Linked DNA regions of Homo sapiens. The protein of the gene in region 5 interacts with the protein of the main gene of each other region in a pairwise test. Each region holds a gene or a part of one and is shown on either strand. Other genes may lie near its edges. The genes, in order: UNG, CLEC3B, KIR3DL1, DPPA4 and RPS6KB1.

The links.
Region 1: the proteins of RPS6KB1 (region 5) and UNG interact in binary tests that used the Homo sapiens proteins (3 or more experiments, as listed by UniProt).
Region 2: the proteins of RPS6KB1 (region 5) and CLEC3B interact in a two-hybrid assay, tested with the Homo sapiens proteins (one large-scale study listed by BioGRID and IntAct).
Region 3: the proteins of RPS6KB1 (region 5) and KIR3DL1 interact in a two-hybrid assay, tested with the Homo sapiens proteins (one large-scale study listed by BioGRID and IntAct).
Region 4: the proteins of RPS6KB1 (region 5) and DPPA4 interact in a two-hybrid assay, tested with the Homo sapiens proteins (one large-scale study listed by BioGRID and IntAct).

Annotation. Positions count from the first base shown.
Region 1 is NC_000012.12:109,102,905-109,109,191, reverse strand, and holds part of UNG (uracil-DNA glycosylase), read right to left. Parts: coding exon 6,265-6,287; intron 5,760-6,264; coding exon 5,581-5,759; intron 1-5,580. UniProt on the Homo sapiens protein: Uracil-DNA glycosylase that hydrolyzes the N-glycosidic bond between uracil and deoxyribose in single- and double-stranded DNA (ssDNA and dsDNA) to release a free uracil residue and form an abasic (apurinic/apyrimidinic; AP) site.
Region 2 is NC_000003.12:45,028,217-45,034,503, forward strand, and holds part of CLEC3B (tetranectin), read left to right. Parts: intron 1-1,926; exon of another isoform or gene 1,927-2,021; intron 2,022-2,610; coding exon 2,611-2,709; intron 2,710-6,287. UniProt on the Homo sapiens protein: Tetranectin binds to plasminogen and to isolated kringle 4. May be involved in the packaging of molecules destined for exocytosis. Plays a role in retinal function.
Region 3 is NC_000019.10:54,813,812-54,820,861, forward strand, and holds the start of KIR3DL1 (killer cell immunoglobulin-like receptor 3DL1 isoform 1 precursor), read left to right. Parts: upstream 1-2,656; 5' UTR 2,657-2,689; coding exon 2,690-2,723; intron 2,724-3,722; coding exon 3,723-3,758; intron 3,759-4,503; coding exon 4,504-4,788; intron 4,789-5,901; coding exon 5,902-6,201; intron 6,202-7,050. Other genes in the region: KIR2DL4 (killer cell immunoglobulin-like receptor 2DL4 isoform c precursor), read left to right, coding at 31-300. UniProt on the Homo sapiens protein: Receptor on natural killer (NK) cells for HLA Bw4 allele. Inhibits the activity of NK cells thus preventing cell lysis.
Region 4 is NC_000003.12:109,327,547-109,331,753, forward strand, and holds part of DPPA4 (developmental pluripotency-associated protein 4), read right to left. Parts: coding exon 4,188-4,207; intron 3,267-4,187; coding exon 2,978-3,266; intron 1,543-2,977; coding exon 1,344-1,542; intron 479-1,343; coding exon 442-478; 3' UTR 1-441. UniProt on the Homo sapiens protein: May be involved in the maintenance of active epigenetic status of target genes. May inhibit differentiation of embryonic cells into a primitive ectoderm lineage.
Region 5 is NC_000017.11:59,929,961-59,936,247, forward strand, and holds part of RPS6KB1 (ribosomal protein S6 kinase beta-1), read left to right. Parts: intron 1-156; coding exon 157-214; intron 215-397; coding exon of another isoform or gene 398-434; exon of another isoform or gene 435-472; intron 473-839; coding exon of another isoform or gene 840-912; exon of another isoform or gene 913-1,092; intron 1,093-1,661; coding exon 1,662-1,762; intron 1,763-4,209; coding exon 4,210-4,300; intron 4,301-4,473; coding exon 4,474-4,564; exon of another isoform or gene 4,565-4,568; intron 4,569-5,232; coding exon 5,233-5,340; intron 5,341-6,254; coding exon 6,255-6,287. UniProt on the Homo sapiens protein: Serine/threonine-protein kinase that acts downstream of mTOR signaling in response to growth factors and nutrients to promote cell proliferation, cell growth and cell cycle progression.

The DNA.
Region 1 (6,287 bases), on a different chromosome or scaffold from region 5:
ATAAACTCCTCAACTTATTAACACAATGGATGGGGTTAACATCTTGGAAAACCCATCCTAAGTAGAAAATATCCTAAGTTGAAGATATATTTATGACATATAACCTGCTGAACATCATAGCTTAACCTACCCTACCTTAAACATGCTCAGAACACCTACATTAGCCTACAGCTGGGCAAAACAAAGCTTCTTTTACAATGAAGTGTTTAGTACCTCATGTAACTCATTGAACACTGTACTGAAAGTGAAAAATAGAACGGGGCCAGTCACGGTGGCTTACACCTGTAATCCCAGTGCTTTGGGAGGCCAAGGTAGGACAACTGCATGGGACCAAGAGTTTACAACCAACTGAGGCAACATAGCGAGACCCCATCTCTACAAAAAAATTAAAAAGTTAGCCAAGTGTGATGGCATGCACCTGCAGTCCTAGCTACACAGAAGACTGAGGTGGCAGGATCACTTGAGCCCAGGAGTTCGAGGCTGCAAAAAGCTATAATTGTGCCACTGCACTCCAGCCTGGGTGACAGAGCAAGATCTTTTTTTTTAATTTTTTATTTTTTGAGATGGGGTCTTACTCTGTCACCCAGGCTAGAGTGTAGTGGCATGACTGTGGCCCACTGTAGCCTCCACCTCCTAGGCTCAAGTTACTCTCCCACCTCAGCCTCCTGAGTACCTGGGACCACAGGTGCGTGCCACTACACCAGGCTAATTTTTTGTGTTTTTTAGAGACAAGGTCTCACTATGTTGCCCAGGCTGTTCTCAAACCCCTGAGCTCAAGTGATCCGCCACCCTGGCCTCTCAAAGTGTTGGGATTACAGGCGTGAGCCACTGCTCCCAGCCAAGAGACCCTGTCTCTTAAAGAAAGAAAAAAAAACAACGTGTGAGTGCTCAAAGTATGGTTATACACCATTGTAAAGTCGAAAAAAATCAGGTCAAACTTCATAAGCCAGGGACCAGTTGTACCTACACAAATAGGTACATATAAAGGGACTGACACACTGCTTATGTCAGCTAAAACCTAGTATACAATTCAGTGTTACAGAACTGGCTAAATGTATTTTTCTAAAGTTCTTACAATGTAAAACCACATAACTCCTAGAAAAACATGCGAAAGATAAATATACTGATGAGATGACCTCCAAAATTTACCAAGTGAACAAAATGCAAAATAATTTCATTTTTTAAAAACTTTAGAAAAATACCCAAGACACTGTATTTAGTAGTTCCTTTAAGAGAAAGAGTGGAAGCCATTTACTTTCCATTTTGTGCCTTTCTGAACTCTCTGAATAGTCTTACAGCTCCTAAGAAGGAAGAATTAAAAAACAAAAACAAAAACAAAAAAATCTCGCCACAAAAATGGAATAGTTGGCCGGGCGTGGTGGCTCACACCTGTAATCCCAGCACTTTGGGAGGCTGAGGTAGGTGGATCACCTGAGGTCAGGAGTTCAAGACCAGCCTGACCAACATGAAGAAACTCCGTCTCTACTAAAAATACAAAATTAGCTGGATGTGGTGGTACATGCCTGTAATCCCAGCTACTCAGGAGGCTGAGGCAGGAGAATCACTTGAACCCAGGAGGGGGAGGCTGCAGTGAACTGAGATCACGCCATTGCACTCCAGCCTGGGCAACAAGAGTGAAACTGTCTCAGAAAAAAAAAAAAAAAAAAAAAAAAGAGGAATAGTCAGTGGCCAGGTGTGGTAGCTCACGCCTGTAATCCCAGCACTTTGGGAGGCCGAGGCAGGAGGATCGTTTAAGTCCAGGAGTTCAAGAGCCAGCCTGGGCAACGTGGTGAAACCCTGTCTCCACAAAAAAAAATACAAAAATTAGCCAGGTGTGGTGGCGCACGCCTGTGGTCCCTGCTACTCAGGTGACTAAGGTGGGAGGATTGCTTGAGCCTGGGAGGTTGAGGCCGCAGTGAGTTGAGATCAAGCCAGTGCATTCCAGCCTGGGTGACAGAGCTAGACCCTGTTTCAAAAGAAAAAAAGCAATAGTCATACATCACCTAATGACAGGGATGCATTCTGAGAAGTGTGTTGTTAGGCAATTTCACTGCTATCCGTACACCACAGGGCATCTTTACACAAACCCAAATGGGATAACCTACCACTACACACCTAGGCTATATAGTGTAGCTTATTGCTCCTGGTCTACAAACCTGTGTAGCATGTTACTGTACTAAATACTATAGGCAACTGTGACACAATGGTAGGCATTTGTGTATCTAAACATAGAAAAGATGCAGTAAAAATATTTTTTATATATATATATATACACATATATATATACGTATATATATATGTGTATATATATATATGTTTTTTTTTTGAGATAGAGTCTCACTCTGTTGCCAGGCTGGAGTGCAGTGGCATGATCTCAGCTAACTGCAACCTCTGCCTCCCAAGTAGCTGGGACTACAGGCACACGCCGCCACACCTGGCTAATTTTTTGTATTTTAGTAGAGACAGGGTTTCACTATGTTGCCCAGGCTGGTCTCAAACTCCTGAGCTCAGACAATCCACTCGCCTCGGCCACCCAAAGTGCTGGGATAACAGGTATGAGCCACCACACCCGGCCAGAATATTATAATCTTATGGGACCATCGTCATATATACAGTTTATGACTGAAACATCATTATGTGGCAAATGACTACTTTGATTTTTTTAAAATATCAACTATAGTTATTTTAACAGGGAGATATAGACCATTTTTGTTTTCCTCTTCTTTTCTGTATATAAAAACTAACGAACAAATCACTGTTTCTCAAAACACTCTTGCCTTCAAGGGGCTCAGTCCAGGAGGGGCGATGAGGGGTGAGGACTAAAGCCAGGCAATCCAGTGTGGTTAAGAGTACAGAGCCTGGAGCCAGACTGCCCGGGGTCGAGGCCTACCTCTACCCTCAGTAGCTGTACCACAGAGAAGTTGCTGCAACTCTAAGCTGCTTCAGTTTTCATCTGTAGACTGGGAATAACAATACCGCCCAGCTTATGAAGTTACTGTGACCAATCAAATGAGGATCACAGGGGCTGAGTGTGATAAGAAGTCATGCACACCAAATGCTGAACACACACGCAAGCAGCACAGGCCCCTGTAAATGTCAGCCCTGCAGAGCTCTAAAGAATCCCAGAAGAAAATGACCTCTACACTGTAGGCAGAGAAAGCAGGATATGCAAAGGCAGGGAAGTGGGGCACCGTGAAAAAGTAAAGGGGAATGGGTCAGCCTAGGGATCGGAGTGCAAAGAGGGATAGAGTTAAGTCTGGGAGGCCGATTGGGGGCCACCCCTCTACCCCCCTGAAATCAGATCTTCAGCCTAAGGCAAGGCCTTCCAGGGAGAAAGCATCAGAACCCTCCAGGCAAGATCAGGTGAGGGCCTGAATGAAGGCAAAGGTGGTCAGGCAGGGGTAGATTTGGAGGGGGAAGAAAGAACACAGATATGAATGACTGACTGACTGGGAAGGTGGAAAAAAAGGACAGAAGAGGGGAGAAAGAGAGGTAGGCAGGTGTCAGTAATAGATCTGGCTGGACAACTGGGCAGATGATGGTGCTTTTTGCTGCTAGGGAGTGCAGAGGAGGAAGTTTAGTGAAGCATGGATGAGAAAAGGAGAAACTTCGTTTGGAAAATGTTGAATTTGGCATGTTCATGGGGCAGTAGTAACAAGGCACTCTATAGATCAGAAGAGACACTGGGCTGGAGATATGCAATTTGGCTTTAATGACCAAGCTACTTTAACAACTGTTTACTTTCAGACCAAACCATGATTAAAGATTACCAATATACTGCGGAAGAGCAACACTGGCCGTAAACCTCCCTAAGGGATAGAGATTAGCAATTACTCTCACGCACACTTCTTACATACCTAGATGATCACATCTTAGCAGTTCATACCAGTCAGATCTTAGGTCACTCATACAAGTGTATGCCTACCTCAAAGCCTTTCTGAGAGTTAAGTAAGATTCTGCATGCAAAGTACTCAACCTGGTCGGGTGCGGTGGCTTACATCTGTAATCCTAGCACTTTGGGAGACCAAGATGGGAGGATCGCTTGAGGTCAGGAGTTCAAGACCAGCCTTGTCAACATGGTGAAACCCAGTCTCTACTAAAAATAAAAAATATTAGCTGGGTGTGGTGGCAGGCAACTGTAATCCTAGCTACTCAGGAGGCTGAGGCAGGAGAAGTGCTTGAACCCAGGAGGCGAAGTTGCAGTGAGCCGAGATCATGCCACTGCACTCCAGCCTGGGTGACAGAAAGACTCCATCTCAAAAAACAAAAGTGCTCAACCTAGTACCCACACAAGGTAGGGGTTAAATATACGTGCACATTTCTGATACCCCCGTTACCTCCTGCTGATACACCAAAAACTATTGTCAGGTTACCTCTGCTAAGCCCTTGCCTTCGATCATTGAAGCATTTACTCTATAATTTCTCCCCCACCCAATGTCTCTCCCATTTGCCAGGGATGAACACACCCCTGGCTCGTCTCCTTCCCACCCCCTATCTCTCCCTCCTCCACTCTGCGGCTCTCCATCAAGCCTCCATCTCTAGTCCATCACGGTTCTCCTGGAGAAAGATGATGGTGACTCATGCCTGAAGGGCAGCAGTGGCGAATGAGAAGCAGTAGACTGGGGTGTTTTGGGAGGCAGAGTTGATGGGATTTACTGATGGGATGGAGGATTCAAGGATGACTTTTAGGTCTCTGATTTCCACAACCAGGTGTAGAAGTGCTTCAGTGAGTGAAGGGAAAGAGGGAGGTAGCAGATAGGGGGAAGATGTAGGGAGGGGAGCCACTGGTTTGGTCGTGTTGGGTATCTGCAATTAGACCTTGGGGTTAATAATGATCACCGATAGGCCGGGTGTGGTGGCTCATGCCTGTAATCCTAGCACTTTGGAGGTTGAGGAGGACAGATCGCTTGAGGTCAGGAGTTCAAAACCAGCCTGGCCAACATGGTGAAACCCTGTCTCTACTAAAAAATAAAAAAAAATCAGCCGGGTGTGGTGGCGGGCGCCTGTAGTCCCAGCTACTCGGGAGGCTGAGGCAGAATCACTTAAACCCAGCAGGCGGAGGTTGCAGTGAGCCAAAATCATACCACTGCACTACAGCCTGGGCAACAGAGCGAGACTCCATCAAAAAACAAAAAACCCAGAAACAAAACAATAATGATCACTGATAGTATTTTCATGGGCAAGTTAAATTTGTGATTGAGTGGAATTCTTTGTGTTTTCTATATGTTCCCAAATTTCTTGGAAGCCAGAAACATGCCTCATCCATCACTTGTTAAGTGAATGGTACCCAGGGACTTGTATCTTGTAGACACCAAGTTCATGCCTACAGCACCAACTGCATTCAGTCACAAGTTGGCCAGTTGCTTTGCTTTCCTCATACACAACTCATCACCCCTATAATTTGTCCAAATTCTTCTCAGTTTTCAATGGGAAACCCTTATAACAGGCCTAAGGGAAAATAAAAGTTATTTTATAACATGGATTTTCCAGGACCAAACACAGCAGGGACTCCTAGAATTCTTTACATTGTTTTTATAGTGTTAAAAAAAAAAGAAAAAAAAGAAAGAAAACAAAACATACCCTATCAATGGCACTGCCCTTCTTCTGAGCATAAGAGCCCCAGAGCAAGAAAACAAGGCCATTCGAGTTCTGATTTAGCCAGGACACAACTGCATCAGTGAACTGCTCCCAGCCTCGCTCCTTATGAGAGTTGGCTTGATGGGCACGAACCGTGAGGACAGCGTTGAGAAGGAGAACACCTATACACATGAGAGAAACAGGTTAAATGTAGGCTCAGGCAAATCAGCCCAATACCCAGCAACAGGAGCTAAATCCATGATGAAACCAATGCTTGATGGGATCCAGTGTAGCAAGCTGTGCTTCCCTGCTGCAGCCGGCATAATGGCAGCAGCCACTACCATCAACAATGGAGTCGGGGCTGGGCGTGGTGGCTTATGCCTGTAATCCCAGCACTTTGGGAAGCCGAGTCGGGCGGATCACCTGAGGTCAGGAGTTCGAGACCAGCCTGGCCAACATGGTGAAACCCTGTCTCTACTAAAAATACATTAAAAAATTAGCCAGCTATGGTGGCTCATGCCTGTGGTCCCAGCTACTCAGGAGGCTGAGGCATGAGAATCGCCTGAACCTGGGAGGCAGAGGTTGCAGTAAGCTGAGATTGCACCACTGCACTCTAGCCTGGGCAACAGAGTGAGACTCGGTCTCAAAAAAAAAAAAAAAAAAAAAATCTAGCAGTCGCTGGCTTACCTTGCTTGGCCCACCCAGATAAA
Region 2 (6,287 bases), on a different chromosome or scaffold from region 5:
TGGTTCTCACTCAGGCATCAACATCATCTGGGAGATACATTAGAATCCAGGTGCCTTGGCCAGGCGTGGTGGCTCAAGCCTGTAATCTCAGCACTTTAGGAGGCCAAGGTGGGAGGATCGCTTGAGGCCAGGAGTTCAAGACAAGTCTGGCCAACATGGTGAAACCCTGTCTCTACTAAAAATACAAAAATTAGCTGAGTGTGATGGTGTACACGTGTAGTCCCAGCTACTCAGGAGGCTGAGGCAGGAGAATTGCTTGAACCTGGGAGGTGGAGGTTGCAATGGGCCGAGATTGCACCACTGCACTCCAGCCTGGGTGACAGAGTAAGTGAGACTCCGTCTCAAAAATAAATCAATAAATAAAATAAAAGTTAAGAATTCAGGTGCTTGGGCCCCACCCCTGGAAATGCTGGTTTAGGGATCTTGGTGAGTTTAGCATCTGCCTTTTCCACAGGTCTTCAGGGATTCCTAGGAGCAGCCAGGAATGAGAATCTCAGGGGCAATCTAGTTGCAGGGCTGGTGCCCAAAAGTACGGGAGAAAGTCCAAAGAAGGGACGGTCATGCCAGAGGAGACCAGTTGGTGCCAGGGCCAAGAGGGGGAGAGCAAGTGGCAGGACTGGCAAAGGAAGGGAATGCCAGCATATGCTAAGTCCTTGTCCTGGCCCTCAGGGTGGGTGAGAAGCGGGGAGCCTAGAGTACTTCTGGGAGCTCATCTGTTCTTGGGGCCACATGGTCACACCTGGCAGGGAAGCTCCGGAGGGAAGGATGGCCTCATAGGAGTCACAGGCCTTTAGAACAGGGAACTGGGGGAACCTGGAGGGCATCCATTCTAACATCACGCAGAAGGAACCTGAGGCTCAGAGAGTGGGCCAGCACAAAGGCCTCCTGACTCTGCCCAGGGCCGTAGAGACACCTACTCCCACAGCTTCCTCAGGTGGAGCTAATGAGAGTAGCTTCCTGTACCTTGGACAGTCCCTGGAGGAAACTTTGCACATATGGGCACCTTGGTGCAAATTACAAAAGGTACCTCCTCTAAACTGACAAATTATAGAAAGGCATCTCTTTTTCTGGTCTGACCCACTCTAGCCAGGGCAAGGCTTAGGAGACAAATGGGCCTTCATGTGTCCCTCAGCAGAATGCCCTTCTTCAGTGCCCCCTTGCACAGCCTCACATGGCACCCTATGCTGGTACATCACGTGACTGGGTACAGTGCTGCTATAACTGGTGGAGGCAGTCTCTGTGTGAGGCACACATGACCTCAGGCTGGTTTGCCAGCCCCAAACTCTCCCTTTTTTTGCCTTGCTCATCAGGGTGTTTTTGCTCCAGTTTGGTAAGTTACATCGCTAATTTCTATATACACAACCATGTGTCTTGCCTGTGATTCTTCTGCAAAGGCACCTTATGGGTGGACGAAGGCTCTGATCTCACTCTTTGTGAGTGTGGAATGTATGCAGACACAGCCAAATGGACCATTAAAGTGTTTCCCCACCCACTTCCCCAAGCTGAGTGCAGCCTTTCCTGAAGCCCTGGTGTTTCAGAAAGACCAGGGTCCGCCCCAGGAGCTCTAAACTTACACACACATAGAAATATGCTTCCCGGCACCCTCAACTTACACACACATAGAAATATGCTTCCCCGCCTTCCCCTGCTGACTCTTACATGACTGGCTGCCAGCAGGACAGCTCCTGTTAGGAATCCGTTTGTGTGCCATGGGGAAGGTGGGGAAGAGCATGGCTTCAGAGCCATGTGCACCTGGGTTCCAGGCCAGCCCTGCCAGCTGGGGCTCTGCCATCCTCGGCCAGTTGGTTTAGGGCAGCCTGGGTTTCCTCATGGTGAAATGCTGGTGGTACAGAATGACACGTTACCTGTGTCATAGGGTTGATTATGAGCATCACATGGGGTGACATGTAGAACGGCTTAGCCCAGAGCCTGGCCTCCTCTGTAAGAGTGGAAAACCTGGGTTCCTTCTGCCCTCATCTTATTAGTAGCTGTGATGGGCACACACTCAGCCAAGCACTGAGGTAGGCAGCTCTGCGTTTCAGTTCTCTTAGTCTTCTCCAGAGTCCTAGGAGGTGGGGCTGTCATCATCCACTTCATACATGAGGGAACCAAATCCAGAGAGGCTGAGCAGCTCGCCCAGGCCACCCGTGTCTGTGGCACCTCCAAGCCCTGCATATGCGTGCCCCAGGCTGGAGTGCCTGCTGGTCTGTGTCGCATTCCTCCAGCCTGGGGAAGTGAACCTGGGGGCTTCTTGAGGGCTCCTGCTGTGCTTCCTGTGCTGTTCTTCCCTGGAGCTGAAAAGGTAGCTGGGTGGTGGGGGATCACTGAAGCCTGTGCCTACACCCTCACCCCTGCCTCTGCTAATCCCAGCCCCATCTGATCCCCAGCAACAATCCCAAACAAATGCAGCACAGGAGCAAGTGAAGGATGGGCCCCCTGGCAGAAGTCACAAGTGGTTAATTAGACTACCACCAGCAAGGATAGAGAGAGAGAAAGTTTCCCAAGATATCAAGGTTGAGGGGAGTCTTTTCCTCTCATCCCTCTGCAGCTAAGGTAGGATCCTTCCTGCTCAGTCCCTGCCCCACCCTGACATATTTCCTCCTGCTTCAGATGTTGTGAACACAAAGATGTTTGAGGAGCTCAAGAGCCGTCTGGACACCCTGGCCCAGGAGGTGGCCCTGCTGAAGGAGCAGCAGGCCCTGCAGACGGGTGAGTGCAGGCAGTAGCCTCTCTGGGCAGGAGCGTCTGAGAGAAGGGCCCAGGCCAGCAGCCAGCAATGCTCTTCTCGCCTCCGTTCAGCATCAGGGTCCTGGCTCCATTAGTCCAGGCCTATGGGTGAAGGCACCAGGTTCAGGGAGCCCCACCTCTTTCTCTTGGGGAGATCCCCTGACACGTGTCTGCAAAACTCACCTGGATGTGTACGGCCAAATCTCTGGCCACAGCTGGGTGGTGTGGAAGTGGGGATGTCCCAAGAGGACAAAAAATTCTCCAACAAGAATCCACTACTGCCCACCAGAAGTGACCCTGGAGCGCTCGATGGGGCAGAGGTAGTGGCCCACCCTAGCAAAGCTCCCAGGAGCCCCTCACTCAGCTGGCCTCTGCAGCCCCAGAGAGCTCCACACTCCTGTGTGTCAGCAGCTTTGCTGACCCTGTCTCTCTTAATCGTAACTCTGCTGAGGTGGGATTTGTCAGCTCCATTTTAAAGATGAGCTGTCAGCTCCATGAAATGTCAGCTCCATTTTAAAGATGTGTCAGCAGCAACTGAGGCATAGACAGGTCCTGAACCTGGCTCATACTCACCTCGTTGGTTAGTTGACTCGTGGAAGAGCAAGAGTTGAATGGAGGCAGGCTGCCCAGTGCCAAGCTGGGCCTTGGTGTTCCTGGCTCTGCACTAGCCAGCTGAGGGAGGGTGCACAGAATCACCAAGAACAGGGCCCAGGCGCATGGTAAGGTCATGCCCTCTGGCCAGCATACCTGGCAGCCTATTGTTTCTCACTCCCCATGTTCCTGTCATATAGTCTGCATTTTCCACATACCTCCGATTTACCTACCTTTATATGACCTCACCTTCCATTCTATGGAGAACACAGACTCACAATACTGATGACTATTTACATGTGAGCCCACTACATTCTGGCACTGTTCTTGATGCTTGATGCAGACTCACAATACTGATGACTATTTACATGTGAGCCCACTACATTCTGGCACTGTTCTTGATGCTTGATGCACGTTAACTCATTCACAGCACACCCGTGCAGTGGTCCTGTTACTACATCCTCACCCTTATTTTCCACCGAGAAGGACCTTGTGACAGCCGAAAGGAGCAGAGCCTCACTTAGCTCTGCTATGCTGCCCCTCGAGTTATCAGCTGGGAAATCACCTTGACTCCTCAGCAAATCTATAAACCACCCTGTGTCCACAGCCACTCTCTTACCTGTTGCTTTTGTGACCAAGGCCCATCCATCTGCAAGGCCTTCCCTTCCCCGCCTGCCTCCTCAGAAACCCCCAACAGCCTTCTCACCGGATGGTTTTACACACTCCCTCCCATTCATATGCTTTCCTTCAGCATTCACACTGCCATCCTTCTGCACTCCCACCACAGGGCCTTTGCATGTGCTGTTTGGGCAACCTGAATTGCTCCCCCAAGATCCACCTAATAAATGCCTCCAGCATTATCTTCTCAGGAGTCACTAATCCCTCATCTCAATCAGCTCCTCAGTTATAAGCTCTCCCAGAACAGTGTCCTTTCTTTTATCACACTGACTGCAGTCTGTAATGATACACTCATTTCCTGATTTGTGTCTGCTGCCTCCACTAGACTATAGTAAGCCCTGAGAACACAAGGGCCATGTTTGCTTTTCATTGCCCTTGTCTCTTCCACTACCCTGCCCAGCATAGTGCCTGCCACATAGCAACACTCAGTCAATCTCTGTTGAAGGAAGGACAAACATGTAACTTTGGACAGCTTGCTTGGCATGGCAGGTAGGAAGAGAGTGCTCGAGAAAGGGAGCATCTCCAGAGGTGTTTTTGACTTCATGTAATAGGAAACCTATCAGTGGCTTAAACAAAAAGTAAGTCTGCAAGTAGGTAGTTATAAGTTTTTGTTCAGAAGTTTCACCTCATGGTCTTCAGATGGCTGCCCCAACTCCAGGCATCATGAGTGCATTCAAGGCAAGAAGGAGGAAGAGTAGCCCAACCACATCTGTCTCATTTATAGGGAACGTAGTCTTCCACTTCCATCTCATTGACAAGAAATCTATCATATGGCCACCTGCAGCTTTAAGAACATCTGAGAATGCAAGAATGTAGCTTTTCCAGCCTCTATAGTGGAGGTGGACAAGAGAGAAGGGATTTGGAGGCAACAGTGCCTGGCACAGCGGGTATGTTTAGAATGAGCCCAGTGCCACTCTGAGCCTCAGTTTCCTCATCTGTAAGGTAGGCAGGGTAAACTCTAAGGTCTCTCTCATGTCTAAGCTCTGTGCTGTGCAAAGTCAATGTAACCCAGGCATCAACTGCCACCTGGGGTGAGGTAATGAGGTGGGGACCTCCCTGAAAAAAGTTCATGACATATGGAGGCCCAAAGCATGACATATGAAAGCCCCCATGTCTGCTGATTTCTAGGAAGCTGCTGGGCTTCTTGGGGCCTTCTCCTGTTCATTGTCCTCACAACCCAAAGATCACCTTTTCAATAAACCCACCCAAAGCATTGCAGAGCTCTGTTGACCTAACCAGAGTTGAAGGAATCAGGGGGCAACCTTTCCCTCCTCCAACCAGCATACACATGGGAGGTTCCCACCTGGTACATCTCTGCCAGGCACAAGGAGGCAGAGGTGATGCAGCCAGGGCCCTGCTCCCTGGGAACCTCAATATATTCATGGAATCACTTGAGCCCTTGAAAGCTGTGTAGGAATCAGAGAAGATAAAGAGGGTTGATTCCAAGCAGATGGCAGGGCAGGAGCAGAGGTGTGGAGGACTAGCATAAATCGACAGGATCATGAATAGACCAGAGCAACAAAATGTTGGCAGCAATGATAGTATCACGAGAAGTAGCATTGACTGAGGACTACCTATGTGTTGGAGGGAGGTTCAGGTGAGGGTCCTAGGAAGCAACTCTGAGATGGAGTTTAACCCACAGGAGACTTATCAGGAGATACCCTCAGGATCAACCCCTGTGCTAGGGAAGGGATGGAAGGAAGCAGGAGTGGGCAGAAGGAGAAGTCGAGCTGTACTGTGGTGCCACGAAAGCCTCAGCTGACTTCAGGAGCCCTGATGACGGGATGACCCTTCGGCACTGTCCTGAGTCGGGGCAAGAGGGCTTATGGGTCAGTCTTGGGTGTAGGCTGCTCTAGGGAGGGGCACGGCCTTGGAAGAGATGGCTGTCTTCTGCTGAGGCAGTCCCTGCAGGAGGCTGAAAGCTGAGGACTTTCTTCCTGCAGCATTCCTGGCAGCCAGGGCAGTGAATCCTTCATCCCCAACAAAAGTCTAGGTAGCACGTCAGTGTTACCAGCAGGAAGGAAAGGCAATGAAGGCCGCTTGGCTAAGCTGTAGGATAGCACGAGGTAGGACAGCTGACTTGGGGCAGAGTCTGTGGGTAGACACCTCTGTAATGCTTCAGGCCCCATGTTTAAAGTCGGTTGTGGTGTCAGATGCCCATGGGGACACTGGGATGCTGTCCATTGATATTTGTTGAGTGAAATGGAAGTAACTGAGTGGGAATGGATAGAGGGGAGTGCAGACATCCCCCAAAGTGGTGGGGTCACCAGCAAGAGGACAAATGCAGACAT
Region 3 (7,050 bases), on a different chromosome or scaffold from region 5:
CTCCCTCACTCAGGATTTCCCTCTCTCCAGGACTCTGATGAACAAGACCCTCAGGAGGTGACATACGCACAGTTGGATCACTGCATTTTCACACAGAGAAAAATCACTGGCCCTTCTCAGAGGAGCAAGAGACCCTCAACAGATACCAGCGTGTGTATAGAACTTCCAAATGCTGAGCCCAGAGCGTTGTCTCCTGCCCATGAGCACCACAGTCAGGCCTTGATGGGATCTTCTAGGGAGACAACAGCCCTGTCTCAAACCCAGCTTGCCAGCTCTAATGTACCAGCAGCTGGAATCTGAAGGCGTGAGTCTCCATCTTAGAGCATCACTCTTCCTCACACCACAAATCTGGTGCCTGTCTCTTGCTTACCAATGTCTAAGGTCCCCACTGCCTGCTGCAGAGAAAACACACTCCTTTGCTTAGCCCACAATTCTCTATTTCACTTGACCCCTGCCCACCTCTCCAACCTAACTGGCTTACTTCCTAGTCTACTTGAGGCTGCAATCACACTGAGGAACTCACAATTCCAAACATACAAGAGGCTCTCTCTTAACACGGCACTTAGACACGTGCTGTTCCACCTTCCCTCGTGCTGTTCCACCTTTCCTCAGACTATTTTTCAGCCTTCTGGCATCAGCAAACCTTATAAAATTTTTTTGATTTCAGTGTAGTTCTCTCCTCTTCAAATAAACATGTCTGCCTTCATTCTTTAGGTGACTCTTTTTTTGGCTGAAAGTTTCCAGTGTTATCATTACCATGTCCAAATAACTCCAACTGTTCTCCACTGGGTTCTCACCCCTGGACTTGGAGCTTCTGGAAGCAGGGTGGAGCCTGATTTGTCTCTGAGACTCCAATTTCCATCCAAAGATGCAGCACATAAGAGGTTCCAAGGATCGTGAATCACATGAACAAGTGATATTCTTACTCTCTGCAGACCTGGAAAGCTGGCAGAGTCATTCCATGATGAAACATTTGTAGAGTCATAGGCCTTGTTAGTCTCATCTCCACGGGGACACATATCAACACATCATCTTTCATACTATAAATATACAGTCGGTCCTCTGTATCTGTGGGATTTACAGGTGTTTATTGAACCAAATATAAATCAAAAATATTCAGAGAAAAAATCCACAAAGTTTCAAAAAGCAAAACTATGTTGAATGGACACAAATGAAGCTGTGTGTAGGCTGTATCAGGAATTATAAATAATCAAGGGATGATTTCATGTACACAGGAGGATGTGCATGGGTTATTTGCAAATGCTGTGCCATTTCATGTAAGAGGCTTGAGCGTCTGCAGATTGTGCTATCTGAGTGGAGATCCTGAAACCAATCACCCACGAATAGTGAGGGATGACTGTATATAATTTTTATTTCTCAATTTTAAATATAAAACATAAAAAAATTACAATAACAAGATAAAATAAACAAGTGTTTTATAGTGTGAGAATACGTTTAGATATATTTTTCTCTATGTGTAACCCTTGGGCCCATGTTATTTATTGAGAAGACATTCTATTCCACCTTAAACCACATGGCAGCCTTTGTCAACTATAAAGGGACTGTGTGTACACGGATGTATTTTAGACACTGTTTTCTGCTCAGTGGCTCTCTCTCTGTCCACTCTCTTGAGAATGCTGCATTTTATGCAGCCTTATACAACCCCTAAAATTTGGTAGCTGGAGTCCTCTAGTTATTTATTATAGGCTATTTGCTATGCTTTTTTTATTTTTCTTGAGGCAGAGTCTCGCTCTGTTGCCCAGGCTGGAGTGCAGTGGCACGATCTCGGCTCACTGCAACTTCCGCCTCCCAGGTTCAAGGGATTCCGTGCCTCAGCCTCTTGAATAGCTGGCATTACAAGTGCCTGCTACCAGGCATGGCTAATTTTTGTATTTTTAGCAGAGACATGGTTTCACTATATTGGCCAGGCTGGTCTCAAACTCCTGACCTCGGTTGATCACTCACCTCGGCTTCCAAAGTGCTGGGGAAATTGATTTTCTATAGCATTATGTTACTGGATATTTCTGTAAAATTTAAAATGAGGGAGGCAGAGAGACAGAGAGAGAGCAAACCATGAGTTGGAACTCTGGAATCTTGGGACATGAGACAAATTCTAGATAAATCTACAAAAATCCAGAATTTACATGTTGTGATTTTTGCTGATAAAGTACAATTCTAAGATTGTAAATAATTGCATAATCCTTCCCTGGGAGTTTAAATCATTTGAACTGGTTCTGCTGTAATACTAGAAATACAATCATGAAAAATTCTAATGGTTTATTGTCACAATTGCTCTGAAAACCTTAATAATACCTATTAGATATTTTGCATATTACACAGGAAGAAGAGTTTGAATCTCAGATAAAAACAATAAAAATACATGAAAAGTCTTTCATGTTAGCACAGATTTTAGGCATCTCGTGTTCGGGAGGTTGGATCTGAGACGTGTTTTGAGTTGGTCATAGTGAAGGACGCGAGGTGTCAATTCTAGTGAGAGCAATTTCCAGGAAGCCATGTTCCGCTCTTGAGCGAGCACCCACTGGGCCTCATGCAAGGTAGAAAGAGCCTGCGTACGTCACCCTCCCATGATGTGGTCAACATGTAAACTGCATGGGCAGGGCGCCAAATAACATCCTGTGCGCTGCTGAGCTGAGCTGGGGCGCAGCCGCCTGTCTGCACCGGCAGCACCATGTCGCTCATGGTCGTCAGCATGGCGTGTGTTGGTGAGTCCTGGAAGGGAATCGAGGGAGGGAGTGCGGGGATGGAGATCTGGACCTGGAGGTAAAGATATGGGCCTAGAGGTGGAGTTATGGGCCTAGAGGTGGAGTTATGGGCCTGAAGTGGAGATCTGGGCCTGGAGTGGAGATCTGGGCCTGGAGTGGAGATAGGGGCCTGGGGTGGAGATATGTGCCTGGAGTGGAGATCTGGGCCTGGAGTGGAGATATGGGCCTGGGGTGGAGATATGTGCCTGGGGTGGAGAGATGGGCCTGGAGGGGAGATATGGGCCTGGAGGGGAGATGTGGGCCTAGAGGTGGAGTGATGGGCCTAGAAGTGGAGCGATGGGCCTGGAGTGGAGATATGGGCCTGGAGGTGGAGTTATGGGCCTGCAGTAGAGATATGGGCCTGAAGTGGAGATATGGGCCTGGAGTGGAGATATGGGCCTAGAGGTGGAGTTATGGGCCCGGAGGTGGAGTTAAGGGCATGAAGTGGAGATCTGGGCCTGGAGTGGAGATATGATCCTGGAGTGGAGATATGGGCCTGGGGTGGAGATACGGGCCTGGAGCAGACATACAAGCCTGGAAAGGAGATATGGGCCTGGAGAGGAGATAGAAGCCTGGAGTGGAAATATGGGCCTGGAGTGGAGATATGAGCCTGGAGTGGATATATGAGCCTGGAGTTGAGATAGGAGCCTGGAGTGGAGATATGGGCCTGGAGTGGACTTACCAGCCTGGAGAGGAGATATGGGCCTGGAGTGGAGATACGGACCTGGAGTGGAGATCTGGGCCTGTTGTGTAGATCTAGGCCTGGAGGTAGAGATCTGGGCCTGGAGGCTCAGTCTCTGCACAGCCGAGATCCTTGTTCCTGGGGGCAGGTAGGCAGCGAGGGTGAGTTTACCTTCAGCCCAGCAAGGGCCTGGCTGCCAAGACGCACAGCCCAGTGGGGGCAGCAGGGTGCCCTGGTTTGCCTGCAGAGGGATGGTCCATCATGATCTTTCTTTCTAGGGTTGTTCTTGGTCCAGAGGGCCGGTCCACACATGGGTGAGTCCTTCCCCAAACCTTAGGGTGTCATCTCCCCACATAAGAGGATTTTCCTGAAATGGGAGGGAAGTCCTGTCGGGGAGTCTCTCATACACTAGGAAGAGGGGACCCTCGGATGCTCGGCCCACATTTCTGACCTTGCCTTCCCCGGCCTTTCATTCCCTTTCCTGAGTCAAGCTCTGTGAAGACTGGGGTGAGACTAGGGTGCTCCAAGATGGGTGTGCAGGGAGGAAGTGGTGTCAGCAGCAGAGAAAGAGAGGGAAGCAGTGCTAGGAACAGCAGGTCCTCTGAGGACAAAGGTGTAACTCACACCCTCCAGCGTTTCCGTGATGGTAGGGGCTGCAGTGTGGCTGCGGTCTTTCTACCAGAAAAGGTGAGGAAACCACAGCCATGGCCCTGACATTCCAAATCCTCTGATGGGGGCTCAGTTCATCAATTGGCTGATATTCCATTCACATAGGACTTGCCCTCCATGCCGTGTCTACTTTGTGTTGTTTTATATGAGTAATTTTGCAGTATTAAAATCTAGTAAGAGTTGCTTCTCCAGCAACTTGCTCAAAGTTCTCAGCTGACACTTGTTGTAGGGAGACGCCAAGTCTATGCAGGATGGGTCCTTCCTGTAGCCCTGGGCACCCAGGTGTGGTAGGAGCCTTAGAAAGTGGAAATGGGGAGAATCTTCTGGGCACTGGGAGTGAGGGGCGGCTCCACATCCTCCTCTCTAAGGCAGTGCCTCCTTCTCCCCCAGGTGGTCAGGACAAACCCTTCCTGTCTGCCTGGCCCAGCGCTGTGGTGCCTCGAGGAGGACACGTGACTCTTCGGTGTCACTATCGTCATAGGTTTAACAATTTCATGCTATACAAAGAAGACAGAATCCACATTCCCATCTTCCATGGCAGAATATTCCAGGAGAGCTTCAACATGAGCCCTGTGACCACAGCACATGCAGGGAACTACACATGTCGGGGTTCACACCCACACTCCCCCACTGGGTGGTCGGCACCCAGCAACCCCGTGGTGATCATGGTCACAGGTCAGAGGCTTTCCGTCTGGGCTTCTCACTGTCCCACCTCCTGAATCCCAGAGCTTCTGGTGGGGGTGTCCGTCAGGGTCCCATCACCCAGGCCCTGACTGTATTTGGGGTCAAGGGAGATTGAATACAGGGGAAATGGGTGCTGTGGTGGGAAGAATCACTGTCCCCAATGATGGCTACATTGTAATCCCTGGAGCCTGTGACTATTTATGTTACAGGGCAGGGGACTGAAGGGGAAGGTGGAGCTCAGGTTGTTGATGAGTTGACCTTGAGATGGGGAGACAGCCTGGACTGTCCCACTGGGCTCAGTGTAATCACAAGGGTCCACATGAGAGGTGGAGGAAGAGGGGAGTGGGGATTAGAGCAGTGTAGTGGGAGGGAGACGCTATCAGCCACTGCGGGCTTTGAAGGTGGAGGAAGACCACTAGTCACAGAATGCAGGTGGCCTCTAAGGGCTGGAGAAGTCAAGAGAACTGATTCGCTGATTCTCCAGAGGGAACGCAGCCCTGTAGACACCTTGATTTCAGCACAGGGAGAACTGGATCCAATTTCTGTCTCCAGAAGTGGAAGGGGTCAGTGTGTTCTCTCCCGCTGCCATGTTTGTGGTAATTTTCTGCAGCAGCAACAGGAAACCAACACAGGAACCCAGGTCAAGGACAAGTTAGGAAACCAAACAAGGATAGCCAGATGTGGTGGTGGGCACGAGTAATCCAACGACTGGGGAGGCTGAGGCAAGAGAATCACTTGAACTGGGGATTTGTTCAAAAGAGATTGATTCAGGCTGCTAAGAGCCTGGACATGCAGCCTGTCCTCTTCCACCCCCACATAGACAGCAGGAAAGAGATTAGTGGGAAACAGATACAACAGCCCAAGAGATGAGGCTGTCTTCACAGTGGCAAGGGAGTCAGGGGCTACTGGAGACAGAGGGACAGAGAAGAGGGAGGAAGACAGATGGAGGCACCTGCACCAGGGGATATGGGCACAGAAAAGACACGGAGATGCAGAGAGGGAGGAGAGAGACAGACACGGGGAGGGGAACCCTCACTCATTCCAGGTGCCATGGATGGGATGATAAAGAGAGATGCCTTCTAAACTCACAACTTCTCTTTCTAGGAAACCACAGAAAACCTTCCCTCCTGGCCCACCCAGGTCCCCTGGTGAAATCAGGAGAGAGAGTCATCCTGCAATGTTGGTCAGATATCATGTTTGAGCACTTCTTTCTGCACAAAGAGGGGATCTCTAAGGACCCCTCACGCCTCGTTGGACAGATCCATGATGGGGTCTCCAAGGCCAATTTCTCCATCGGTCCCATGATGCTTGCCCTTGCAGGGACCTACAGATGCTACGGTTCTGTTACTCACACCCCCTATCAGTTGTCAGCTCCCAGTGATCCCCTGGACATCGTGGTCACAGGTGAGAGTGTCTAGACATTGTTCTCATTGTCACTGGGACACAGAGTGAATGATCCAGGACTTGGAACCCCCAGGTGGTCATGAGGAAGATAAGTGTGGGATTCTTATGGAAAGAGAGTGACTTGGTGAGGTCTGTACCAACAGAGACAGAGAAACAGGAGACATAAGTACAGAACAGGTGTCATAACAGAGGACAGACACAGGGGCCATACAGGGAGGTAGAAAAGAGAGAAAGAGGTAAAGGAGACACTCAGACAGACAGACATGTCCCAGAGAGAGGTGTCCTTCCATGCTGACTTTGCTCAGAGACCTGGCACAGGTTAGAAGTTTCATTTCTGTTTTACCTCCACAAAGTGTTCCTACCAGAAGAACCCAAGGACACCCATATTTCTGACCTGAGTTGGGCCCTGTGGCCTCAGGCCTTGTGCCACCTACAGATGCCGTGTTTATTCTGACACCTCTGCCTTCCATGCAATGGAGAGTAATCATCCCAGGATATCATGGCCCCTGAACACCAACCCCTGTATGCTGTGTGAACTTGGGGTCCCCAGACTGGATTCTGAGGCTCATATTCCAAATAATCCCACATATGATAGGATCGCTGAGAGACACAGAGAAAAATCAGGGACACCAAAAAGCAAAGACATAAACACACACAAAATGAGCCAGAAGAAGGAGATTAAGAGATTCACAGACACATAAAAAGAAAGAAAAGAGGGCAGAATGGAGAGAATGATGGAAAGGAGGAGAGAAAAGCCCCAAAATCAGAACCCTGAGGGAGGGACACAAAGACAGAGAAAGATAAATATGTGGGGATGGATTGCAGAGATTCCAAATAGAACTAGAGAGA
Region 4 (4,207 bases), on a different chromosome or scaffold from region 5:
CTGTACCTAGCTACTCAGGAGGCTGAGGCAGGAGAATCATTTGAACCCAGGAGGCGGAGATTGCACTGAACTGAGATTGCACCACTGCACTCCAGCCTGGGCAACAGTGAGACACTGTCTCAAAATACAACAAAAAAAAGCTGCTGCTGAAGTCATGTCTATTTTAGAAAAGTAGTATGAATGAGTTTTTCTACATATTAACTACAATTTATGGTAATTTGTGAAATGTTTTTCCATTTTTAAATGTAAGAGTCTCTATCTCCACTCACAAAGCAACAGGCACTGCTAGGGGTCTTAGGCTAACATCTGCCACCCCACCAGTCTGCATGGCCCATAAACAGGTGCAGAGGACCAGAGTTCACCTGTCAGCAGCACCGCAGAATCCAACTCTCCAGCTTTTCTGCCATTAATTACCATAGATGTGGCCTTTTTCCTGATATTCTATTCCCATTGGAGGCTTTTTATTAAGACCTTGTTCCTATAAAGCAAATAAAGTATTTGTTTTTAAAAAGAATGAAGAAATATTAAAAATAGCCAAGAAACCCGCTGCTGGAATGCTGTTGAAATTGCCCTTACAACTTTAGGATCATAGGTAGCAAGCCTGTGATCCTGTCATTCAAGAATGAAGATCATCAGCCAAGTTATCATGCCTCTGTAATATATTCCCTGACTTGTGCCAACCATGGACAGGAGGCCTTGGAGGGGCTCTTTTCATCACTTTCCCAAAAACCTAAGTATGTCATTAAAGGACTACCCAAAGTGACCTCCTCAGTTCTCTTCAACTTGCTTGGCATAGAGAGATTATCAAAACACTCACAGCAAAAAGTAGGATATCCCAAAGAAGGAAAAGCCAATCACACATTCACATACTTCCTCCTGTGGGAGATGGTCTTGCTACGTTTCCCAGGCTGAGAAATTACCGATCTCTCCTTTCCATCTAGTCGATTCTTCCCTTAACTTAAGGAACCTCTTCTTTGATATTCATCATGTTATTCTAGGTGTTTACATGCCCACCATCCCTGTTAAGACTGTAGGCTACTTAAAGGAAGAGGTTTTTTGCTAGTCATTATTTCTGTGTAGAGCATACACTTTGAATATAGTAATTATATAATGTTTGTTGCTCCCAGAATTCTGTGTCTCCAGGTAGAAGCATTAAACCCTGACACATAAATGCTTTCTTTTTCCTGGGGATAAACTTAACTGAGTAATAATTTTCTTGAAACTCTTTACTGACAATTTGAGCTTGAAATACCTGGCTATTTAAGATTAATGTATATCTTAACTTTCTGCAATTGAAAATCCGGCACCCACTTTTAGTTTGTAGAAAAGCATCAGGTAATTACCTGTGAACACATTTGGGGCACAACATATTGTCTTCAAGGTGCGGGGGTGGAAAATTGGAGGCAGGAAGCAAGAAGAGTGCACTCACTCTCCCTTCTTGCTTTTCTGGAACCCAGGCTTGACCAGCATGAAACTGCAGGTGAACCCAACCATCTGTGTCTGCAGGGAGACTTTTCCCATGGACCACACACCACCTGACACCTGGCAATGGCAAAGGAAAGAGACAGGTACCCGCACACCAGGATGACATACTGATGTAAGACTGCATTATGGCCCATCACCCTTGATTGACCAGCTCCAAGATGTGAACCCTGAAATCCTAACTTAACCTCTTCTCTATTCTGTTCTCCTTTAGAAAAGCATACAAGCTGGGCGCAGTGGCTCACGCTTGTAATCCCAGCACTTTGGGAGGCCGAGGCGGGTGGATCACGAGGTCAGGAGATCGAGACCATCCTGGCTAACACAGTGAAACCCCGTTTCTACTAAAAATACAAAAAATTAGCCAGGCGTGGTGGCGGGGGCCTGTAGTCCCAGCTACTCAGGAGGCTGAGGCAGGAGAATGGCGTGAACCCGGGAGGCGGTGCTTGCAGTGAGCCAAGATTGCACCACTGCACTCCAGCCTGGGTGACAGAGCGAGACTCCATATCAAAAGCAAAACAAAACAAAAAGCATACAAGACAGTTCCTGTTAAAACTTAAAAATCTAGTTGGAAGTAGTATAGTTGTAGGTGGGCAGATGGTAGAAAGACTAACCCAGAGTGTCTGGAAAGGGCTTCATGAAATAAGCTCAGGGGTCTCAGCTCTTAACACACATTGGATTATGCTAAGCAGTTTGTCTTCTTTTGTTGTACTTTCTGTAATTCTTCCAACATATAAGGTAGGTATTACCCATTTTACAATGAAAACGCTGGGAAATATTTTAAATAACTTATTAATGCCATTCTGGGGCTCAGTTGCAGGCAATTAATTTTAGACCTTGCCTTTAATTTAAATTGCTTAAAGGGTAAAGAAAGAAAACCAGACTGCTATCCCCTTCTGATGCCATCAATAATTTAGAGCAGTGGTTCTCAAACTGTGGTCCCCAGACCAGCATCCTTAGTACTGCCTGGGAAACTGTTAGAGATGCAAACTCTTGCCAGGTACGGTGGCTCACGCCTGTAATCCCAGCACTTTGGGAGGCCAAGGTGGGAGGATCATCTGAGGTCGGGAGTTCGAGACCAGCCTGACCAACATGGAGAAACCCCATCTCTACTAAAAAGACAACATTAGCCGGGCATGGTGGCACATGCCTGTAATCCCAGCTACTCAGGAAGGCTGAGGCAGGAGAATTGCTTGAACCTGGGAGGTGGAGGTTGCGGTGAGCTGAGATCGCGCCACTGCACTCTAGCCTGGGCAACAAGGGAGAAACTGTCTCAAAAAAAAAAAAAAAAAAAAAAAAAAAAAAAGGAAAAAAAAAAAAGAAATGCAAATAAATGCTCAGGTCCTGCCCTAGACCTGCACCAGAAACTCTGTGGGCAGGGTCCAGGAATCACCGGCCCTCAAAGGGATTTTGATATACCCTAAAATGTACCAGTGATTAATATCTACTAAGCTTATTTCCCCATTGGACCAGAATAAGCTCTTCATGTTGCGCTTACCAGAGGCCTCTTGTGGAGATTCCACTGCCTCTGGTGTCCTCGCCCTGGCTGAAATTCTCGCCCAGGAGGCCAGCAAAGCCTCTGGGGCAGAAGTTGTCACCACAACTGTATTAACTCCCTCAAGGAGAGCAGTGGAATTTTCCAGGGCAGGCGGCTCCCCCACAGGAGGAAGAGCCACTTCAGGAGGATGTGTCTCAGAACTTTGCAGGGACGTTTCCCCCTTTTCCACCTTTAATTTTTTTTGCAATGATTTCCGGATTTTGGCCTCTTTTGCTGTGCTAGGAAAATCCTACAAAAAGGGTTAAATAATAAAGATAAAAATACAGATTAAAATTCTAACAAAAATGGCCTAAGGAGCTCTTGATCAAATACAAAGTTTCACTTAGGAGGACTAGGTTCAAGAGATCTATTGTACAAGTTGGTAACTATACATAGTTAATAACAATGTACTGTCTTCTTGAAAATTGCTCAGTTGGCCACCCAGTGGCTCAGGTCTGTAATCCCAGCACTTTGGGAGGCCAAGGTGGGTGAAACACTTGAGGTCAGGAGTTCGAGACCAGCCTGGCCAACATGGTGAAATCCCGTCTCTACTAAAAATACAAAAATTATCCAGGCATGGTGGCTCATGCTTGTAATCTCAGCTACTCCAGGGGCTGAGACAGGGGCATCACTTGAACCAGGGAGGCAGAGGTTGCAGCCTGAACTGCAGCCTAAGTGACAGAGGGAGACTCTGTCTCAAAAAAAAAAAAAAAAAAAAAAAAGAAAGAAAAGAAAAGAAAAGAAATGAAAAGAAAAAAATAGAAAAAAAGAAAATTGCTGGCCAGGCACAGTGGTTCACGCCTGTAATCCCAGCACTTTGGGAGGCCGAAGTGGGTGGATCACCTGAGGCAGGCGCCTGTAATCCGAGCTACTCTGGAGGCTGAGGCAGGAGAATTGCTTGAACCCGGGAAGTGAAGGTTGCAGTGAGCCGAGATGGTGCCACTGCACTCCAGCCTGGGTGACAGTGCAAGACTCTGTCTCAAAAAAAAAAAAAAAAAAAAAAAAGAAAGAAAGAAAGAAAAAAAAGAGAAGTAGAGATGGGAAATATTGTTCTTTCTTAGAACTAGGGGTGGAGGAACAAGGTGAGGCTAAGACAGTTCCTTTACTCACTTTTGAGGCTACAATAGGTAATTAGGATAAGCATTGAAACGTCCATCCTTTAAAAAGTTACCTTTTGATTTGGGTAGGCAA
Region 5 (6,287 bases):
TAGTTTTAAAACCTATAATTTTTAGGATCTGTTTTTCATTTTTAAGGGGCTGATGTCTTTTAATTATGGTTAGAAGGAAAGCACAAACTCTCTCATTAGAAGTGGGTTGGAAATAAATATTGTTTTATTTATAATGTTTTTTCTTTTTCTTTACAGGAGGAGAACTATTTATGCAGTTAGAAAGAGAGGGAATATTTATGGAAGACACTGCCTGGTAAGTGAACTTTTTGTGGTTGCATAGATTCAGGTAATTACAAGCAAAGCCCCATTCCCACTATGGGCAGCCACATGATTCAGTAAATTGAGCTGGAGCCAGTCACTCACTCAGGACCTCAAGGGGGAGAAGCAGTTTTGGGACTGGGCAGCTATGGAGGTCACATCATTCCTTTGCCCTTAGGCTTGAGTGGAACGCTCTTCACACCAGTTGTTCCTAACAGAACCATTCTCATTGCGGCTTTCTTTCCTTGAATTGGTAAGCTGCCTGCCTTGGCTGTGGGTGAGTGTGGTTTCCCAGTGAACCTTTATGTGTGGAACAATGGAAATTATCAGAAATCATCCCTTTTTTTTTAGGCTTTCTATTTCTCAAGGTACAGTCTTAGGGAGGTGATAAACCTGGGCATATCATCTGTAGATTGATTATGTAGTCAGGGTGGGATTTACCCTCCTATTTCTAAACATGTCATCTGCTTCAAATTAAAAATATGCACATCCTTTTGTGAAGCAACAATATTGGGTCACAATAAATCAGTTTATCCTACACATTAATTTAATAGAAAACAACACTTAAATGTTTTTTTCTACCTTGATTACCAAAACTGCATTCCATTGTTTAATTTCAGGCCTTTTCTAACAAAGAAGCTGCATTTAAGAGCCTTAGGGATGAAGTGCCCTTTTTTGGAGGAGGCTCACTGAGCCGTGTTGGAGGCTGTGTTTGTGGTCGTGCTGGCTGTGAAACTGCCTCAGTCCTCTAGGACACACCCTCTCCATCCTGGAGTAATCTGCAGGATTGCAACATTGTTATGCAGCCAGTATTGCAGTGCCTTGTGCTTTTCGAATCCAGACAGGGTTGATTCAGCCCTTTATTCTTTTGAGGTAGATAAATTTGGGTGTCACACAGTTTATAGTTGTGGGCTGGCTGGCAGGTGGGAGGGCAGATACTGTGGGCCTCAGCTGTCTATAAATATGTAGCTGTATTAAGTAAGGGATGAGTGGGCTTCTAAGGGTCAGGTTATAAGATACCTTTTGAAATCAAGATGTGATCTCTGAGAATAACAAAGTTCCTATTTCCTATGGGATTTTAAAGTTGGGTGTGGATGGGAGAAATTTGCTTGAAATGAATGGCTATTAGCTTAATTCCTACACAGACAGAACAAAACATGACCAATGGCAGTTTAGCATATTCTGGACATCTTTGCAATTTTAGCAATATATTCTAATGGCAAAATAAAGCACTTTATAGTTTCACTAAAATGAGTGAAACATAAATGTCCCCATGCCTTTTGGCAGCATCCTATGCCATCTCTTTTTCCAATACATCCCCCTACCCCACTAATTTGGTCTTTGGTGCATGTCTGTTTCTTTCAAGGAATTTTGCTCCATACGTAAACTGCTTTGGATAGATTACACTCTTTTTAATTTTATTAAATCACTTTTGTTTCCAGCTTTTACTTGGCAGAAATCTCCATGGCTTTGGGGCATTTACATCAAAAGGGGATCATCTACAGAGACCTGAAGCCGGAGAATATCATGCTTAATCACCAAGGTGGAGACATACCGTAAACAATTCTATAGTAAATAATCATCTTAAAATCCTCCCACATAGGTCGTGGCCATTTTCAAAGCCCCAAATTCATCTCTCTATTTTGTATATTTCCTCCCTCAGAATTCATGGCATCATAGTACTTGCTGATATTTTAAGTCTTTAGGTAATTACGCTTGGTGAGAGTAAAAGAAGTTGAGGATAATAGTCGCTCAACTGCCTTTTTTAGTTTAATCCTTACTCTTTATAGTTTTTCATGTTTTTGGAATCTTTACATCAAATGTTGTATAATGTTTTAGACTGTAAAAGCCAGTCTAAACATTAATTTTGGCTTGTTACTTAAATTGAAAAGTGAATCTCAATTATATAAGTTGAGTTTTAATAATGAAAATATGTAAATATTGGCTGGGCACAGTGGCTGACACCTGTAATCCCAGCACTTTGGGAGGCTAAGGTGGGTGGATCACCTGAGGTCAGGAGTTCAAGACGCCTGGCCAACATGGTGAAACCCCATCTCTACAAAAATACAAAAAAAAAAAAAAATTAGCTGGGCATGATGGTGGGTGCCTGTAATCCCAGCTACTCAGGAGGCTGAGGTGGGAGAATCGCCTGAACCCAGGAGGCGAAAGTTGCAGTGAGCCAAGATCGCGACATTATACTCCAGCCTGAGTGAAAAGAGCGAGACTCCGTCTCAAAAAAAAAGAAAATATGTGAATATTAGAAGCTATGCTTCTTACAGTAGGTTTTATTAATGCTGGGAAAAGGATTGAAATTGAACCAAAGTATTTGATAAAACTTTGGAAATATGATGTTTAGTAGGCATCAGGTTACTTTTTTTTTTTTTTTTTTGAGATGGGGGTCTCACTCTGTCATCCAGGCTAGAGTATGGTGGCATGATTACAGCTCACTGCAACCTCCGCCTCCCAGGCTCAAGTGATCCTTCCACCCCGGCCCCTCAAGTAGCTGGGGCCACTGTGGCACACCACCACGCCTGACTAATTTTTGGTATTTTTTGTAGAAATGGGGTTTCATCATGTTGCCCAGGGTGGTCTCAAACTCCTGAGCTCAATTGATCTGCCTGCCTTGGCCTCCCAAATTGCTGGGATTACAGGCATAACCCACCTTCCCCCCAGCCAGAATCAGTTTATTCTTGCTGTTTGTTTGTAACAACAAACATAAACATCAGAGAGACTGATAATCTATACAACTATAGATATAGCACAGTGAGCCTTGACTACAACTGCATGCTGCTAAAGACAGCTCAATTTATGCTAATCTGGGCTGTAGGTAGACTTGGCAATTCACTCGTACCCCAAAGGAGCAACCAGCTGACCCAGGGTATCTAGAAGGTGGTAGCAGCTGCTAATCCTTAGATGTCTACAGAATAATCCATGAGGTAGTTAATTGTTTCAAACTCTTAGAAAATGATGTATGAACAACTGAGGCTCATATAAACATTCCAGATTATACTCCTCCACCCACCTTTTTTTTTTTTTTAAGGAGAAATGATATACTTAACTGAATATATCATGGGAATCAGTGTCTCTTCCTTCCTCTCATCAACACCTCCTCACTCCCCAAAACGTGGATTCTGATCTGAATTATAAGTCACAGGATAGAATAGGGGAGCGATAGAATAGTTAACTTCTTTGATTTATAAGGTTGAGTGTATCAGATGGTTCTGTGAAAATAAAGGCCATACTTCTTCTGTATCAGAGTGTAGTATATATTTACATTTGAATCAATAGGTCATTGTGCCTTTTCTGTGAAATGAACCTCAAATACTAGAGTCCCTGAGATTGTTGAACCACTTGTTATGACAGTCCAGTAAAGAAAGCTAAACTTGAACTGAAATGATCTTTGTGTAAGGTGGTAAGTTTTTTACTTTCTGGATCAGTGATGATTGATTCATACTATCTAGCAATTTTCTTTCTTTCCCCTAATTGGTAGCATTGGGCAGAATGAGCTACCTTGTTATAATGAGTTTCTGAGACCATTTTAAGGACTCTTCACAGTTCACTGTGATAAAAGCTATATATTTGAAGTACTGTCTCACACCTTTGTTCAAAAGGTACAGAGTATGTTTATTGGGGTCTGTGTACGTAAACTAGACTTCATAAAACAGTTTTCCCAGGATTTTTCTTTTTCAGGATGGTAGAGAATTTTGTATATACTTAAAGCTAGAGCCTTAAACAGGTTATTTCACTTTTTTCTCTATCTTTATTTTCTCTTTACTAGATAGATTGTATCATTGGCAAAAGGTGACTTTGCCCTAGCCTTAAACAGTTAGCATCCCATTTTATGGATGGTACCTTGTTCTTGACATCTGCAAGAAAATTTGAGGCAAGAAAAGTTAAATGGAAGGATAGATTAAAGTATTATGTGACATGTTCAAACACTGCACATACTTATAATTCGGAGAATAATCATGCTGTAATCTTTCATTGTAGGTCATGTGAAACTAACAGACTTTGGACTATGCAAAGAATCTATTCATGATGGAACAGTCACACACACATTTTGTGGAACAATAGAATACATGTGAGCTACATGTTAAACATAATTGGTTTGGGGGTAATAGCTAATTTTACCTGTTTTAAGGAATAGTATCTGTTTTCTGTACCCTCATTGACTCTGTATATTGTTTTTAAAATTCTAATTCAGATGATATGCAAATGGGTGAATTTTTAAGCATATTATTTTCCTCATTGTAGGGCCCCTGAAATCTTGATGAGAAGTGGCCACAATCGTGCTGTGGATTGGTGGAGTTTGGGAGCATTAATGTATGACATGCTGACTGGAGCAGTAGGTGCACAGTTAAAAGCTGCATGTATTATTGGTCTGTGCTGAGTCACTATAGCAAGAGACCTGTCCTGTGCTTTCTGAACATGTTACCAGTGGAGTTTTCAAAGCCCAAAGATTTGTTATTAGCAGTTTAACACTAATAATGCTGTATGATTATATGGGATCCCATACTTTCCGAAACATTTTCTTTTAAATGATCTATGTCATGGCAGGCCTGTGAAATAGATGTTGAATAGATAATGCCCTTATTTTATAAATGGAGAAATTGAAGCATAAAATCACATAGCTCACTTATCACACAGAAAGTTAATGGTGGAAACACAGGCTTCCTTCCAGGACACTGCTACTTCCTCTGTCCTGTTGCTTAAAAACTGCACGTCTGCCGGCCACAGTGGTGCATGCCTGTAGCCTAAGCTACTCAGGAGGCTGAGGTGGGAGGATCATTTGAGCTAAGGATTATTAATAGAATCTAGCCTTGACAACATAGTTGAGACCCTGTCTGTAAAACAAAATAAAGGTCTTTAGCAGTTAGCCCATTTCACAGCATACATTTCTGATCTCCATGTATAACTAATTTAGGAAATGGATAATATTATTCAAAATTTGTTTCTTATATGCTAATATTTTTCTCTCCCTGCTAATATTTTTCACTTGTCTTCTACTCTTAGCCCCCATTCACTGGGGAGAATAGAAAGAAAACAATTGACAAAATCCTCAAATGTAAACTCAATTTGCCTCCCTACCTCACACAAGAAGCCAGAGATCTGCTTAAAAAGGTAAGGTTCTTAAATGGTCACTGACACTACAAGATTCAATGACTAGGATTTAACTAGATAGAATTTAATGTATATTTTGAATAAAGAGTCATATATAAATATTGAACAAAAAAGTCTTCAATTTTTGAAGGCGAAGTACAGATTTGTTTAAAGACTTTCTTTTCATATTCTTTTTTTAAATTTTTTTTTTTTGAGACAGGGTCTTGCCCTGTCACCCAGGCTAGAGTGCAGTGGTGCGATCTTGGCTCACTGCAACCTCAGTCTCCCAGGTTCAAGCGATTCTTCCGCCTCAGCCTCTCAAGTAGCTGGGATTACAGGCACCCGCCACCACGCCCGGCTAATTTTTGTATTTTTAGTAGAGACAGGGTTTCACCGTGTTGGTCAGTCTGGTCTGGAACTCCTGACCTCAGGTGATCCACCTGCCCTGGCCTCCCAAAGTGCTAAGTGCTGGGATTACAGACCCTTAAACAATATTAAGTAGTAATTAGTAAACTATATTTTCTTTTCTTTTCTTTTCTTTTTTTTCTGAGATGGAGTCTTGCTCTGTCGTCCAGGCTGGAGTGCAATGGCATGATCTTGGCTCTCACTGCAACCTCCACCTCCCAGGTTCAAGTGATTCTCCTGCCTCAGTCTCCCTAGTAGCTGGGATTACAGGTGTTCACCACCACGCCAGGCTAATTTTTGTATTTTTAGTAGAGAAGGGGTTTCACCATGTTGGCCAACCTCGAACTCCCAACCTCAGGTGATCCACCTGCCTCAGCCTCCCAAAGTGCTGGGATTACAGGCATGAGCCACTGTGCCTGGCCAATAAACTATATTTTCTCAAGCCAAAGTAGACAAGCACAGTCTAAAAAGGAAAAAAAAAAATCAGTTTGACTAAGGTTCTTTATCCAAGCTTTTTTTCCTCTTTAAAGCTGCTGAAAAGAAATGCTGCTTCTCGTCTGGGA